Linked DNA regions of Homo sapiens: region 2 is linked to region 1. Evidence: fine-mapped expression QTL. A gene starts in region 1. The other region holds a variant in brackets. All regions are shown on one strand. Distances are between the middles of the regions. Region 1 holds the start of STOML2 (stomatin like 2). Region 2 has its middle 15 kb from the start of NPR2.

What was found. PIP is the estimated chance that this variant, and not a neighbour inherited with it, causes the effect.
Region 2: its variant is fine-mapped to the expression of STOML2 in lymphoblastoid cells (GTEx, PIP above 0.99).

Annotation. Positions count from the first base shown.
Region 1 is chr9:35,101,974-35,104,879 of GRCh38, forward strand. STOML2 (stomatin like 2) reads right to left here and starts at 1,158. Exons shown (of 10, transcript NM_013442.3): 1 at 1,077-1,158; 2 at 713-850; 3 at 122-221. The coding sequence starts at 1,121. ATOSB (atos homolog B) reads right to left here. Exons shown (of 9, transcript NM_025182.4): 9 at 2,144-2,906. It also overlaps a transcript of PIGO-AS1 not described here. RefSeq lists enhancers at 536-795, 926-1,195, 1,206-1,255, 1,376-1,425.
Region 2 is chr9:35,774,705-35,777,610 of GRCh38, forward strand. It overlaps a transcript of RGP1 not described here. Among named protein-coding and RNA genes, the nearest start is that of NPR2, 15 kb to the right of the region's middle. The variant CCTT/C (reference allele first, on the strand shown) is at 1,579.

The DNA.
Region 1 (2,906 bases):
GGAGAGAAAACGGGGAAAGTCAGGCCTCTAGGTCCCAACCAGTTCTTTCTACTAAGCTCTGGATCTACAGCAACCACATCCTAATAGCCTCAGAGCACCCATGTCACCCTGAACCCCTCACCGAGAGTCACAGCCGACTGCTCAGGCACGTTGATGACAATTTCCTTGAGACTCTGCACATATCGGATCCGGTCTAACACAGGGATGAGGATGTTCAAACCCTGGAAAGAGGAGTCATGGGTCCTCAGAAGGCTGGGAACTATTGGGTTGGGACCTAAGCTAGTCCTGGAGTATGTAGGGAGTCAACACATGGAACATGCCCAGAAAAGCAGCAGCTCCTACCAAGAAATAAGTCCTCAGAAGGCTGAGGTGTCACTGGTAAGAAAACCCAAGAGAACAGGAATGCAAGACTAGGCCCCTGAATGGAGGGGAGAGTCATGAGAATCGGAGCCAGCAGAATAGCCATCTCTATGCAGACTGAGAGGTAGGGCTGAGAGTGGGCAGGGGAGATTCCCAAGAATGGGGCCTGTGAGATGCATAGGAAAAGGTGGTAACATGGGGATGATGGTCAGCAGCCTGGGCCCTGTCAGGTCTGGCCTACAGAGTCGGGAGCTAACAGTGCGGGCAGGCCCAAAGGAAGTCCTCCCGACATTGCATGTCGTGAGGGATTGGTCATCTGGCTGGCCCAGGGTGGGCAGAAGAGGTTTCTCACAGGCTCCAGGATCCGGTGGAATCGGCCCATTCGCTCCACCACCCAGGCCTCCTGCTGCGGCACGAACAGTACCACGGTGTTTCGGGGCAATCCAGAGGAGGCGCGGCGCGGAGCGCGGCCAGAAGCCAGTAGAGAGCCCTGAAGGAAAGAAGAGGGTGAGCAGAGATCCCATCTGGCCAGACACGCCGCCCCTCGGTCCTGAAGGCATCTCCATAAACCACGACCCTCAGGATCCTCGGAGAATCACATGGGGACCATGACCTCTGACCCCAGTCCTCTCCAAAAGTTGGAATTTCGCTCTTTTCCAGCGGAGAACCCAGGTAATCTCTGTCCTGACCCTCTGGAAAGGTTGCCTCGCTCTCACCCTCAGCAAAAGGGCCCCAGTGCCCCGCGCCGCGCGCGCCAGCATTTCCCACCGCCGCAGCGACCTCCGGAACCAACGAGACGAGCGGAGCGGTCGCTCCCAGAAGCCTACCCGAGCCTTTCCTCTTGCAGTTCCGCTCCCCCGGATGTACTTCCGGCAGCTCCCTCCCCCGCTTCAACACTCACCCAATCAGCGTTACTTGGTCGAACGGCGCGTCAAGTTGTTCCCTGGGAAACGCAGACCTTCTAGAGAAGGGCGAAGGCTGTGGTTGTTCTGGGTTTAGCTGTTCACGCCGAAGATCCCCGGCCTGATGGCCAAAATGGAGGCTATTTTTCGCGGGCATTATCACTCAGACACCACGCACTGAATTATTCGTCCTCACCCGAGACTCAGTTTGCCCACCAGAGCGTAGTATCGCCCCCATCTGTCACCATAGCGACTAGTGGATTGGAGCTGACTCGTTGCCATGGTTGCCATAGTGATATTCTCTGGTAGTCCCGCTGTGTTGTGCCCAGGACTCCCACTGGGGACTGACCCCAATCCCGTTGCCATGGAAACTGGGCCTAATATTGCCTGGCGATTGGGCCGAGATTTTCCCCTCCCCTCTTTCCTCAAAGACACTGCAGCTCCTTCCCTGTCTTCCCAAGCAAGGTTTGTTATGCCCGGTCTTAAATACAGTCCAGCAAACAGCCTCAACGTTCAACCTTGTCTGGAGCATGTCACCTTGCCCACATCCCTAATGCTCTGGTAGTCAAGAGACCTCCGTAGTCACCTCCATTTTACATATGAGGGCACTGAAGTTCTGAGGGGCTAAAGTCATTAATAGAACCAGTATTAGAATCCTGATCTACAATTCAGAGTTCAGCTTCTACGGCTGAACTTTACCCACCAACCCCTCCGAAAGGAGAAAAACCAGGCCCCAGGAATCAGCAGGGACTAGCCTAAGACCTCATGGGCCCAGGCCTGTTGCCTCTCTGGTAGAAAGGGCTGAGTCCCAGCTCCAGGAAGGCCCTCCATCCCCCTTCACACCCTCTCCCCAACAACAACAACAACAACAAAAGTAGAGCTTAGTTCAAGTTTCCAAACAAGAATTTATTCTTTCTTTTTTAATCTTTTTTTCTAAAAAAAAGTACCAGGTACAATTTTTTCCTGTTTTTGATTTGCTTTGTTTTTTCAAGTTTCAGCAAATGCTTGTTCCCCTCAGCCCAGCCCCAGGAGTTAGGACTGAGGCTGGGTCAGAGTCTGGAGTGGGGAATGGGGTAGTTTGGAACCACATGACTGAGTTTGAGGGGTGCCCCTCACCCCAGCTGAGGTAGGTGGGTCAGAGTCTGGCCAGGTGAGAGGAGGCACCCCAGTGCTTGGCCCTGACTCTGCCCCCTGGACACCTTCTTCAGTCAGGACCCCAAAACAAGGAGACACAGGTAGGAGGAGAGGGACAACTGGAGTCTGGAGCCCTAGGTGAGGGGTGGTTAACCCCTGTGTGTGTGCATACATGCACACTCACACACACATACCACACAAAGACAAGCTTGTGCACACACACATACGCATAACTTGGCTTTCAGAGATAGGTCAGAGGGTAGGGGAAGTGAAGGGACTGGGGAAGGACAGGGGAAGCTGAGTCTTTGGCTACTGACTCAGTCCCTCTGGAATAGCCCCTCTTCCCTCAGCTGAGGGAAAGCAGTTCTCCTCCTGCCCCCACCGCATAAGCCTCTTCAACTCCTGAGGTTGGAGCAATATCTGAGAGTGGGAAGCGGGGAGGAGTGATGCCAATTATCAGGTGTGGGAGGTTACCAAGGCAATCCAATTTGAATAAATTATAAATTAAAA
Region 2 (2,906 bases), 670 kb after region 1:
CAGAGCAAGACTCTGTCTCAAAAACAAAACAAAAAAAAACATGGAAATAGTTACTATGGGGAAATTTGAATTTATTGATTTTATTTTTATTTCTTTTTTGGAGGAGGGGAGTACTATAATCTTTTCAGTGTTTTTGGTTTTTATACAGGTCAATTCCCCTCTTTGACTCATCCCAAATTTTGGTGGGGGGGGCTTCAGTCACATCCTTGTCTTTTTCAGCAGCCTCCTCCCCATATTGTCTCGAGGATTGGGAAGCAGGAAATTTATAATACCCTTTTCTCTCTGTTTTCTCCAAATTCATTTTCTCTCCTGTGTTCCTTTGGGAGAAAAGGGAAATCAGTTCTGTCTCTTCACTCCTCTATATTACTCCATCTGGATGGACCCACACTGATAGCAGTGAACCTTGAACTTGGCAGTTTTGGAGCCAGGGTCTTTGCCCTCAGTGCAGTAAATTCATTTTTTTTTGTTTAGCTGCCAGATTTAGGGTCCAAACAGGAAAACAGAACTCACTCTAAGCATTTAAACCAGAGGGCATTTAATCCAGAGAATTAGCTGGCTGTGAATATGGTGGAAGAGCTGAGAAGCCTTTCAAGGGAAGGTGAGGCAATGCAGGGGAAGATTAGCAACCGAACCTTCTATTCTCCCTAGGCTGTGGGAAGGAGGGGAAGTGCAAGGGGCAGGGTAACTTAGAAGCCGGAACTTTGGGGGCCTGTTCTAGGGAAGCTGGGGCCAAAGAGTGCCTGTCCAGATGCTGGCCAAGGCTGGGAGAGAAGGGGAAGAGATAGTCTGGCTTCTCTCGTTCAGTTTTCTGCCAGTGCCTCCCTGACTGAGCTCAGCAGGAAGCCATCTGTGGAGGGAATGGGAAGGAGCGCCACCATTTACTACACACGCTTCCACATAAGCTTGCGTTTGTCTCTTCCTAGTTAGTACACTTCTTAAGGATATTGAACTAAGTTGAACAGTTTCTCTTTTTTGGTCATATACTACTGATCAGCTCTTCTTATTAGACTTTTCAATGAAGAGATGAAAAATTTGAAAACCTTTACACAGTGTAAAAACAAGCAAACTCTTTTAAAAAAATTTTTGCTTTACTCTTCCAGAATATGGTCCCAAACTGCTGATGGTGGGATGTAGTTCAATTTTGGATATGACGGACCCCTAATAATTACCATAATAATGGACATTTATATAATGCTTTACAATATACAAGGTGCTTTTACATTTATTGTTACTGCAAATAGGTCTTAATCTGGGGATTTTGGAGCCTGTTTATTTGACCTCTAACAGGTTAGCTTAAGGCCTAGATTTGAAAGAAAAAAACAGTAATGCTCTTTTCTTGTTTTCCTCTGAATCACAGATGATAGGCAAACTTCTTTGACCTTTTTGTTAGACAGTTTAGCTACCCTCAGTAGTGGGAGGTGTTCTTAGCTGTCACTGGTGGGAGAGGCTGGCATCAAATTACTCCTCTGTTTTTCTCTCTTGGTGACCCAGCAGGTGTTTAGGACAATGACGACTACTCATGTGGAACCTTTGCAGTCATATAGATCATGCCTGTTGTTTTTGGCCTATTCTCCTTCT[CCTT/C]CTTCTTCTTTTTTTTTTTTAGATGGAGTCTTGCTGTGTCATCCAGGCTGGGGCGCAGTGGTATGATCTCGGTTCACTGCAACCTTCACCTCCTGGGTTCAATCAATTCTCCTGCCCTCAGCCTCCCGAGTAGCTGGAATTACGGGCGTCTGCACCATGCCTGGCTAATTTTTGTATTTTCAGTAGAGACAGGGTTTCATTATGTTGGCTAGGCTGGTCTTGAACTCCTAACCTCAGGTGATCTACCTCCCTCGGCCTCCCAAATTGTTGGGATTACAGGCATGAGCAACCGCATCTGGCCCCCTATTCTCATCTAAATAAATATTTTATTTCTTTATTTTCAAAGTGTCATCCTTGGCCCTCAAGGAAGAGTCTAAGTCAGCCCTACAGTTCATCTTGTCTAGTGTTTGATCAAGATTTGCTTTGTGGGCCAGGCGCGGTGGTTCACGCCTGTAATCCCAGCACTTTGGGAGGCCAAGGTGAGCAGATCATGAGGTCAGGAGATCGAGACCATCCTGGCTAACACGGTGAAACCTCGTCTCCACTAAAAATACAAAAAATTAGCCGGACGTGGTGGCGGGCGACTGTAGTCCCAGCTACTCAGGAGGCTGAGGCAGGAGAATCGCTTGAACCTGGGAGGTGGAGCGTCCAGTGAGCCGAGCTGGCACTACTGCACTCCAGCCTGGGTGACAGAGTGAGACTCTGTCTCAAAAAAAAAAAAAAAATTTGCTTTGTGGAAAATCAAAATAATTGAATTTATTCTTGGGCCAGATATACCCCAACCAATCTTAGCTTTGTTTTTATGACATTATACATGAAGTTATCTAAATCAGGTGTTTTTCTTTTTTTTTTTTTTTTTTTTGAGACAGAGTCTTGCTCTGTCACCCAGGCTGGAGTGCGGTGGCATGATCTTGGCTCACTGCAAGCTCCGCCTCCCAGGTTCACACCTTTCTCCTGCCTCAGCCTCCCCAGTAGCTGGGACTACAGGTGCCCACCACCATGCCTGGCTAATTTTTTGTATTTTTAGTAGAGATGGGGTTTCACTATGTTAGCCAGGATGGTCTCGATCTCCTGACCTCGTGATCCACCCTCCTCAGCCTCCCAAAGTGCTGGGATTACAGGCGTGAGCCACTGTGCCAGGCCTAAATCATGTTTTGTGGTTTTTTTTTTTTTTGTACTTGTTTCTTTCATTTATTTATTTTTATATATATAGAGAGAGAGATAGGGTCTTGCTATGTTGACCAGGCTGGTTTCAAACTTTGGCCTCAAATGATCCTTCCATCTTGGCCTCCCAAAGTGCTAGGATTACAGGTGTGAGCCAACGC